Regions from separate parts of the Homo sapiens genome. Here region 2 is linked to region 1. The links come from fine-mapping of genetic effects on gene expression. A gene starts in region 1. The other region holds a variant in brackets. All regions are shown on one strand. Distances are between the middles of the regions.

The links. PIP is the estimated chance that this variant, and not a neighbour inherited with it, causes the effect. A credible set is the group of variants that fine-mapping cannot tell apart.
Region 2: its variant is the best candidate, but not a certain one, in a credible set for the expression of CLEC10A in monocytes after LPS (Fairfax 2014, PIP 0.64).

What each region holds. Positions count from the first base shown.
Region 1 is chr17:7,077,880-7,083,251 of GRCh38, reverse strand. It overlaps CLEC10A (C-type lectin domain containing 10A), which reads left to right and starts at 3,001. Exons shown (of 9, transcript NM_001330070.2): 1 at 3,001-3,200; 2 at 4,367-4,506; 3 at 5,139-5,255. The coding sequence starts at 4,440.
Region 2 is chr17:7,105,036-7,110,407 of GRCh38, reverse strand. ASGR2 (asialoglycoprotein receptor 2) reads left to right here. Exons shown (of 9, transcript NM_001201352.2): 3 at 1,520-1,636; 4 at 1,851-1,946; 5 at 2,501-2,572; 6 at 3,091-3,177; 7 at 3,257-3,408. Among named protein-coding and RNA genes, the nearest start is that of ASGR2, 7.1 kb to the left of the region's middle. The variant C/T (reference allele first, on the strand shown) is at 2,273.

The DNA.
Region 1 (5,372 bases):
TACAGGTGCCCGCTACCCCGCCTGGCTAATTTTTTGTATTTTTAGTAGAGACAGGGTTTCACTGTGTTAGCCAGGATGGTCTCGATCTCCTGACCTCATGATCCGCCCGCCTTGGCCATCCAAAGTGCTGGGATTACAGGCGTGAGCCACTGCGCACAGCCGTGAGATCTGGTCATTTAAAATCTGATCCCCTGTCTTTTCTCTTGCTCCTGTTCTTACCATGTGAGGCACCTGCTCCCCCTTCATCTTCCACCATGATCATAAGTTTCCTGAGGCCTCCCCAGAAACTGAGCAGAGGCCGGCACCATGCTTCCTGCACAGCCTGCAGAACTACGAAGCAATTAAACCCCTTTCCTTGATAAATTACCGAGTCTCAGGTATTTATTTAGAGCAATGTGAGAATGGACTAATACATGCCCTATTCTTGAGGGACATTAAAAATCAACCCTATCTCATATCCCTGCTCTTTTTCCGCAAAGCACTATTGCCATGTGGCTTATGTATATTTTACTCATTTATTTTGTTTATTGGTGACCCACTAGAAGGTAAGCTCTATGAAGGCAGGACTTTTTTGTCTGTTTACTTTTGAACTCCTGAACTCTGCCTCTTGGGAAGGAAAGTGCTTGGCATGCCGTAGACTCAATAAGTACTCAAATGGATGAATAAATGTGTATAAGAGTGATTGGACGTATGTTTATTGCAGAACTATTTACAATAGGAAAGACTTGGAACCAACCCAAATGCCCATCAATGATAGACTGGATAAGGAAATTGTGGCACATATACACCATGGAATACTATGCAGCCATAAAAAAGAATGAGTTCATGTCCTTTGCAGGGACATAGATGAAGCTGGAAACCATCATTCTCAGCAAAGTAACACAGGAACAGAACACCAAACACCGCATGTTCTCACTCATAACCGGGAGCTGAACAATGAGAACACATGGATACAGGGAGGGGAACATCACACACCAGGGTCTGTCAGGGGGTGGGCGGCAAGGGGAGGGAGAGCATTAGGACAAATACCTAATGTATGCGGGCCTTAAAACCTAGGTGATGGGTTGATAGGTGCAGCAAACCACCATGGCACACGTATACCTACGTAACAAACCTGCACATTCTGCACATGTATCCCAGAACTAAAAAAAAAAAAAGAAGCTTCAAACCCACTGAACCAGACTGAAAAAAAAAAGTTAGTGAATGGAGAAATATCATGTTCTTTTCATGGAAGATTCAACAATGTCAAAATGTTGATTATCTCCAAATTAATATGTGAATACACTGCAAGACTGTGGTAGACACACAGAGAGCTACCCAGGTCCCCCTTCTAGGAAGGATGTGGTGACCCACTGTGGGGAGTGTAACCTGCAGACAGCTGCTTCCTGAGGTCACACCCATGTCAGGGCTGACTGCCAGTGACCGAAGGAGCTGGTGCTCTACAGGACCCTGTGGCAGTCCAATGCTGGACAGCTCCCGGGGGTGGCATTGTTTGAACCCAGAGCTCCCTGTTGGTTTGGTTGAAGCTCTCCAAAGTGCTGGGCTTCTCCCTCTGCCCAGCACCATTTCATCCACTTTCCTTTTCGAAGTGCTAATCCCTAATAAATAGCTTGTACCCCAAATTCAGCCTCAACCTTGGCTTCCAAAAACCGAACCTGCGACATATACTAATCAAAATACCGAATACCAAATAAAAACAAAACTGGCAACGACCTGGCCGGGTGCGGTGGCTCGCGCCTGTAATCCCTGCACTTTGGGAGGCTGAGGCGGGCAGATCATGTGAGGTCAGGAGGTCAAGACCAGCCTGGCCAATATGGTGAAACCCCTCTCTACTAAAAATACAAGAATTAGCTGGGTGTGGTGGCGGGACCTGTAATCTCGGCTACTCGGGAGGCTGAGGCAGGAGAATCGCTTAAACCCAGGAGATGCAGTAGCCGAGATTGTGTCACTGCACTCCAGCCTGGGCAACAGAGTGAGACTCTGTCTCAAAAAAATAAATAAATAAATAAAATAAAAAAGAAAAGAAAAAGAAACAACTTAAATTTCTGATTTATTTCTGTCAATAGAGAAATGCTAAATAAATAAATTACGGTGCCTATGATGAAATGAGGTGCAGGTAGATCAAGTACATTTTATAAACTGATGTGGAGAAATGTTCCTGATAGCTTGTTAACTCCAAAAAAAAAAAAAAAAAGCACATAGCAGAACACAACCCCATGTACATACAAAATATAACCTAAAATGTATTTCTTCTCCTTCTCCACCTTGTAAGATACTCAGTTTCCTTCCTACTGAAAGGGATGTGCGCGTGGATTCAGGGCAGCTCCCTTAGGGGTTGAGCAGGGATCATGGGATGAAATGGAATCCTGTTCATGAAGACAGCGCCTGTGCTGAGAGCCAGAGCAGGGTGCCAAACTGTCTCCTTACAAGCTGTGAGTGATCTTGGGCTCTGAGCCTTTAGTCCGTCATCCAAAATGCCTCCCCAGGTGCTTGGGGGGAATGGTTGTGGAAGGTAAATGTCTGGCATAATCCTATCACAGATTACTCAATAAAATTTGCTCTTTTCCTTGGCTTCTCCCGTCCTATTAGGGCCAAGAAGTTCTATTCTCTGGCACCCCCTTCCCTCCTTCCGAGTGGAGTGAGGCGAGCGAGGCCACAGCTGAGCAGCCGAATGACTGGGACCCAGAGGATGCTGATGCCAGGGACTCAGGCCAGGATTGAGCAAGAGAACAGACTGGGCTTCTCTAGGATCAGAGGTGCGATGATGGAGACCCAACAATTCTGGGAAATGTAGAGGCAGGAAGTGAAAGGAAGTGTAGGGTAGAGGAGCAACAGCAGATTGTACCTCTGATCCAGCCCTGCTCCCAGATGGTAAAAATGAGGAAGCTCCGAGAAGAGGAAAGGAAGTAGGCATGGCCTGGAGGAGGAGAACAGAGCTGGCCTCAAACCCAACTCTCCCCACCCACACATGGTCTCTGTGTGTTCTAATCCCTGTTCATTCTCATTTACTGTCTAAAGTTGAGGAGATGGGATGTCCCAGATGATAGGGCTCCTGGGATTTCAGACCCAAGACCAGCAGGACTCCAGTCACCTCTACCCCAGCTCTCCAGGACACAGCGCTCCCAACTCTGAGTGACGTCCCACCTCTGGTCCTTGCAGCACAACCAACGTGGGAATCACACCCTCCAGACCTCCCACAGGTAATGGTGCTGCCGGTGCCGGTGAGACCCAGGGGACAGGGGATGTCAGAGGAAGCAGGGAGAGGGGGACTTTGGGTCTTGGGTGGGACTAAATGAAAATAAATATAAGGCGGCAGTGTGGGGTTTAATTACTACGTGGAGATTTGAGACTCTGTTCCCTTCACTGGATTCTAGATTGGGTTACGGCAGCCACAATCCCCTGTCATAAACTAAGACTCCGGGAGCTGAGGCAGGAGAATCTTGTGAACCCAGGAGGCAGAGGTTGCAGTGAGCCGAGACGGCCTCGTTGCACAACAGCCTGGGCGACAAGAACGAAATTCCATCTCAAAAAATAAATAAATAAAAATAAAAATAAACTAAGACTCAGACTCAGCCTCATTGGTGGCCCATTTCCAGCCTTATCTTCATCTCAGCCCAGCCATGCCCTAATCCCAATACTAACCCCAGCTTCTACATTTTCTTTTTTTTTGAGACTGAGTCTCACTGTGTCGTCCAGGCTGGAGTGCAACGGCACAACCTCGGCTCACTGCCACCTCTGCCTCCTGGGTTCAAGTGATTCTCCTGCCTCAGCCTCCCAAGTAGCTGGGATTACAGGCGCACACCACCACACCCAGCTAATTTTTGTATTTTTAGTAGAGATGGGGTTTCACCATGTTGGCCAGGCCGGTCTCAAACTCCTGACCTAAAGTGATCTGTCTGCTTCGGTCTCCCAAAGTGCTGGGATTTATAGGCGTGAGCCACCGCACCTGTCGCCCCCCACCCAGCTCCTACTTCAACCCCAACCCCAGAATCAACTTGAATTTTAACACCAGCCCAAAGCCAAAATTGAACCTCGACTCTATTCTGTTTCCAAATTCACCACCAAAGTTAACCCCAATTCCATCCATGGCTCCAACGTGCATACTGACCCCAATCCTAGCATGAGATACAACCTCCAGTCCTGCCTGATTAACTGGCCCACTGGGTAGTCCTAGCAATGCGTTTAGCTCCAACGTTACCCTCCAGTTTCACTCCCAAACTCAACTCGACCCCAATTCTAACTCGACTGCAAACCCAGGCTCATTTCCGTCTTAACCCTGGGCTCATTCTCAACCTGAGCCTCATCTCCCAACTCAACGTCAGCCCTGCCCTTGGCTCCAACTTAGTCCCAACCTCCTATTCCCCAGCTCCACCCCAGACTGGGCGCCGGCCCTGCCTCCATTTCAGCTGTGACAACCTCAGAGCCGTGTTGGCCCAAGCATGACAAGGACGTATGAAAACTTCCAGTACTTGGAGAATAAGGTGAAAGTCCAGGGGTTTAAAAATGGTAAGAGGAAAGGGGAAACTCTCCTAAAATGCCCTCTTTATATGTTTAGAAGGATTTCTCCTATCATTTCTGTACCTCCACCACGCGCACTGGTGGGTCCTAACTCTGAGGAGGTCAGGCCCCAGCCTCTGACGGGCCTAGTGTGAAGAGGATGCAAGGTCTCTAGAAAGACTGGGACAGGGAGGATCACAGTGGACCCAGCTTCTGATGCTCTGTGGGGTGGGGATGAGAGCTGCGCATTGGTGGAGGGAAAGATAAGTAGTTGGGTTTGGAAGGAAACTCATTTGTGAACCTGATTGTCCAGCAGGTAGGTGAGCATAAGCCCATGAAGGGCTGGCTGCCCCCAGCTCTCCCTGTGTCCTCCTGCCCCTGCCCCCAGCTCTGACCATGGGACCCCTCATATCGCTATCACGTGGGTCCCCAGGGGTGTGAGGGGCCTGTGTGACTGAGGACTTGTGCTGGTCCCTGAAGTCAAAGGCCTGGGCATCCCCCACCCCAAAATCCTCCTTGTCCAACCCTCCCCTGGAGTCCCCTGTGCCCAGCCCTCCTCACTAGACAGCTCCCTGGGCCCTCTCCTTCTCCCGTCTCCGGTGTCTGGACCCTCCTCATCCTGACACTCTCTCCTCTTGCAGGGCCACTTCCTCTCCAGTCCCTCCTGCAGCGTCTCTGCTCTGGGCCCTGCCATCTCCTGCTGTCCCTGGGCCTCGGCCTCCTGCTGCTGGTCATCATCTGTGTGGTTGGATTCCAAAGTGAGGGTCACAGGGGTGGACAGGGAAGAGAGAAATAATGGGGTAGAAGATAAATAATGGGGTGCTACAGTAGGGCAGTGGTGGGGCGATGGTGAGGTCCACAGTAGGAGCAATGCA
Region 2 (5,372 bases), 27 kb before region 1:
GCAGTCAGGGACTCAGCCATGGAGGGCCAGCTTGGTGGGGAACACCGTGGTCATGGAGCGCTTCTGGATGGAGAGGAATGCAAAGGCCTTGGAGGAAGGGGTGGGGGCAGTGAGAGGGAGGGTGGGGCTGTGCTCAGAGCGGGAGTGGGCAGTGGAGGTGTCAGAGGCCTCCCTGGGTCAAATGGGGTCCTGAGTGTGGCTGCAGTGGGGAAGGTGGAAGTCACTGGTGTGAAAAAGATGAAGAGTTATGGACAGTCACTTACAGGGGCAGTGTCTGACTCAGGACAGTGGCAGGAAGTGACCTGGGGAGGAAGATTCTGGGCCCCTGACTGAGCCTCCCCAGGATGTGGTCCTGCTGGGTCGGGGGGTGATAGGAATGAGAAGACAAGGAAGTCCACAGAGTCAGGGTCCAAGGCCTAGAAGGTGTTCTGTTTGCAGGTGGATGCTGCAAAGAGAGGAGCTCAGGGCTGGGACAACTGGAGCTGCTCTGGGTCTGGAGGCAGCAGAGAGGGAGCCCAGCTCTGTGTGCAGGAAGACGTGGGTGTGTGAGTGTACGTGTGTGGGTGTGTCAGGTGTGTGTGTGTGGGAGGGAGTATGAATGTGTGCATTAGCATGCATATGCACATGTGAGAGTGGGTACAGCAGAGCGTGGTCATGAGTGTGTGCAAATGTGTGTTTTTGAGTGAAGTGAGCAATGTGTGAGTGTGTGAGTGTGTGTGAGTTTGTGAGGGCATGTGAATGTGTGTGTCAGTGCTGTCAGGGTGCAGATGGATCAAGGGGCAGGAGAGGTACCTGTGAGATGACCTCGGGCTGAGGGGAGCAAATTTAGTGTGGAACGAGGTTTCTAGGGAAGCGAGGGCAAAGGGCGCTGGGGAGGAGGCCTTGCGTGGTGGGGGATGAGGACAACAGGTGGGACCTGGAGGGTTGTGCTTGGAGAGTGGGCTATGGTGGAATGACCCAGATTTAAGGATCTCAATGGAATTTTGGCAGGGGAGGGACTGTTCCAGTATGGATTTTAGGAAGAACACAGGGCCCAGCTTCTGGAGTCTCCAATCTGAGGGGACAGGAGCCTTAGAAGAGCTGAGACTAAGGCCCGAGGTGATCTGGAGGCCTCTGCCACTGGCTGGATGGGAGGAAAACCATTCACAGATCCCCCTTCTCAGGATGTGTGCCTAGGCAGGGCCGGGTCTGCCCCCCCGCCCCCTGTGCGTCTCCCAGTCCCCCAGCTCCAGGATCCGGGCTTTGCACACAGCTGATGTGAATATCCTGAGTCGTGTGCATGGGTGTGTGTGCACCAGATTAGCTGCGTGTGTATATTTATACATGGTAATATGGGTGCGAGTGTGTAAGAGTGTGTGTGTAATGCTCAAATGCTGGGGTCAAAGCCTATGATGACCCCCCCCCATGGCCCCAACCAATCCCCCCGCCCAGGTTATGCCTCCTCAGGCTTCGGTGCCCTGTCTTTACCCTCCGGCTCCCCACACCCAGGCTGCCGGCTCCTGATGCCCCTCTCCCACAGGGCCACCTCCTGCCCAGCCCCTGGCACAGCGTCTCTGCTCCATGGTCTGCTTCAGTCTGCTTGCCCTGAGCTTCAACATCCTGCTGCTGGTGGTCATCTGTGTGACTGGGTCCCAAAGTGAGGGTCACGGGGGCCAGCAGGGATGGGCAAGGGGTAGGGAAAGAGACATGGGCAGTGGCGGGCAGCGATCGGGGCGATGGGAGGGGAAGGGATGGAGGCGGGGTGGAGCACAAGCTGGGGCAAATGCGGGGACATTGAGGGGCCAGTCACATGGACAGTGATGGGGACACGGCCCCTCTGCCTCATCCTGCCCCCACTACCACCTGACAAGGTGCACAGCTGCAAGCCGAGCTGCGGAGCCTGAAGGAAGCTTTCAGCAACTTCTCCTCGAGCACCCTGACGGAGGTCCAGGCAATCAGCACCCACGGTGAGGGGCTGGACGGCTGGGTTCTCATTTATCCGCACAGGTTTGCTGGGCTCAGTGCCGAGTCTGCAACAGGGCTGTGTGGGGTGCCGTGGGGGTGCAGGCTGGGCAAGGCGTCCAGGGGCCCTGGGGGATGTATAGGAGGGAGGCAGGTGGGGACGGACGAGGTTAGTGCCAGGTGGAGAGGTTGGATCTGCGACACCCGGAGGTGAGGAAGGCACCATGTCTTGGGCCTGTGAGCAAATCGAGTGTGGCAGGCCCATCGGAGGGGCAGGCAGGTAAGGGGTGGCCAGAGAGAGGTGGGGAGGGGCCCGGCCACGCAGGTGAGC[C/T]GTGCTGACAGAGCGAGGCTTTATTTTGAGAAAATGGGGACCCATTGAAGGGACTGAAGCAGGAGAGTGGCCTGAGCCACTGTGGCAGTGCAGGGAGCCTGGGTGTGGTCCAGGAAGCCAGGAGGTGGACGCCTGCATCGCCCAGGACGAGGCGCTGGCCCCCGGTCCCCCAGCAGCATGAGGACGGAGGGAGGCTCAGCGGGGAAACAGCTGGCTTTCCGCTTCCAGGAGGCAGCGTGGGTGACAAGATCACATCCCTAGGAGCCAAGCTGGAGAAACAGCAGCAGGACCTGAAAGCAGGTCAGAGAGCCTCCGGGGTGTGTGCGCATGTGCGTGCATGTGTACGTGTGCGGTGTGTGTAGTGTGTACGTGTGCGGTGTGTGTAGTGTGCACGTGTGCGTGCGTGCGTGTGTGTGCCTGCAAGCATGTGTATCTGTGTCTCTCTCCGTATGTGTGGTGTGATATGTCATGGATCTGTGTGTGGTGTGTAGTGTGGTGTATATGTGTGTGTTGTGTGTGTATGCATGTGTGGTGGTGTGTGTGAGATGAGTCTGTGTGTGTGCGGTATGGTATATGTGTGTGTACGCATGTGATGTGTGTGGTGTGTCTCTTGGTGTGTTTGTGTGTGTGTGATGGATCTGTGTGTGGTGTGGTCTATGTGTGGTGTACATGTCTGTGGTGTGTGTGTGGTATGGTGTGTGGTGTGGTCTATGCATGGTGTACGTGTCTGTGGGTGTATATGCTTCCCCAGCCACAGGCTGGAGCCTAGCAGGTGGGGACCACACCTGCCGGCAGCACTTTCAGCCTGTCTGTCCTAGATCACGATGCCCTGCTCTTCCATCTGAAGCACTTCCCCGTGGACCTGCGCTTCGTGGCCTGCCAGATGGAGCTCCTCCACAGCAACGGTAGGGGTGGGGCCGTCTCCAGGCCCAGTGTGCCTGCCCCTCCGGCTGGATCTCATCTCCCTGCCCCCTGTCCCCTCAGGCTCCCAAAGGACCTGCTGCCCCGTCAACTGGGTGGAGCACCAAGGCAGCTGCTACTGGTTCTCTCACTCCGGGAAGGCCTGGGCTGAGGCGGAGAAGTACTGCCAGCTGGAGAACGCACACCTGGTGGTCATCAACTCCTGGGAGGAGCAGGTGAGGCCACGCTTCCCACAGGCAGGAGGAAGCCCTTGGAAGGCCTGCTCTGGGAGGCTGGATCAGGCTTATTTTATCCATTTTTTTTTTTTTTTTGAGATGGAGTCTCGCTCTGTCGCCCAAGCTGGAGTGCAGTGGCACGATCTCGGCTCACTGCAAGCTCCGCCTTCTGGGTTCACGCCATTCTCCTGCCTCGGCCTCCCAAAGTGCTGGGATTACAGGCACGTGCCACCATGCCCGGCTAATTTTTTTGTATTTTTAGTAGAGACGGGGTTTCACCGTCTTAGCCAGGCTGGTCTGGAACTCCTGACCTCATGATCCGCCCACCTCCGCCTCCCAAAGTGGTGGGATTACAGGCGTGAACCACCGCGTCTGGCTGAACTTCAAAGTATTTTAATGCCACAGTAGTTAAGCCATATGATACAGGGGCCAGAATATATGTATTGTTTGCATTACATCAGGCTCTGTTAGTACTTTACAGCATACTGTGAGTACGAACATATTTTGCTTTACTGATCAGGTTGAACTTGCCAACATTTCATCAGTTTTGACCTATAAAAATGTCAGTTTCATGCAGTTCAACCTAAGATCTCAGTGCTCTGTGATTTGGCACACAATAAGCTCATGACCACTACAACTTCGTGGTGGACGGTGCTTTCGTCACTATGAAGCCAACGTGTGTCCCAGTTAATGCTTTTTGCCTTGAATTTATCTGATATATAAATACCACGGTCCTTGATTTTTTTGTCACTTGCATTTGCTTGCTGTATCTCTGTCCATCCTTTTGTTTCTTACCTTTTTGAATCTCTGTTTTAAATTAATGATTCTCAGTCTTGACTGTACATTGCAATCTCTTCAAGAGTTAAAAAAAATATATCGACTCCTGGATCTCGCCCTTAAAAATGCTGATTTAGGCCGGGTGCAGTGGCTCACGCCTGTAATCCCAGCACTTTGGGAGGCCGAGGTGGGCGGATCATGAAGTCAGGAGTTCGAGACCAGCCTGGCCAAAATGGTGAAACCCTATCTGTACTAAACATACAAAAATTAGCCGGGCATGGTGGCGGGTGCCTGTAATCCCAGCTACTCAGGAGGCTGAGGCAGGAGAATCACTTGAACCCGGGAGGCAGAGGTTGTGGTGAGCTGAGACTGCGCCATTATACTCCAGCCCGGGTGACAGTGCGAGACTCTGACTCAAAAAAAAAAAAAAATGCTAATTTAAATTAATCTTGGCTTCATCCTGGACCATTCCCTGAGGGGCAGCACAGGGCAGCTAAGCTTAAGGTATTTCTCCTATATAGGTTTTTTGTTTTGTTTTGTTTTTGATACAAGATCTGGCTCTATCGCCCAGGTTGGAGTGCAGTGGCATGATCTCAGCTCACTGTAACCTGTGCCTCCCGGGCTCAACGGATTCTCCCACCTCAGCCTCCCAAGTAGCTGGGACTACAGGTGCACACCACCATACCTGGGTAGTTTTTTGCATTTTTAGTAGAAATGGTGTTGTGCCATGTTGCCCAGGCTGGTCTTGAACCCCTGGCCTCAAGCGATTCGCCCGCCTGGGCCTCCCAAAATATTGGGATTACAGGTGTCTGAGCCACTGTAATCCAAAAACTGCACCTGGCAGGTTTTGTTTTTGATGTTTAAAAATCTAATAAGTACCTTTTCTTTTAATAGGTGAGTGTCTCATTTACATTCTAATAGATATGTTTAACCCTAGTCCTTTCTTTTTTCTGCTTTACATGCTTCTTAATTTTCTTACAATTGCTATGTGAGAGGTGTTCTTTTTGTTTTCTTCTTTATGGTATTTTGGAAACTATGTAGTTTATTTAGAGTTATTCCAGTGATTACTTGTATAACTTTAAATAATAGGCTGAAAATTATTGGCTTTGAAAACTAAAAGTTTGTATAACTTCCATAGGAAAGGTGAGGAGACCAGGATACCTCTTATTCCCATGTGTCTGAGTCTT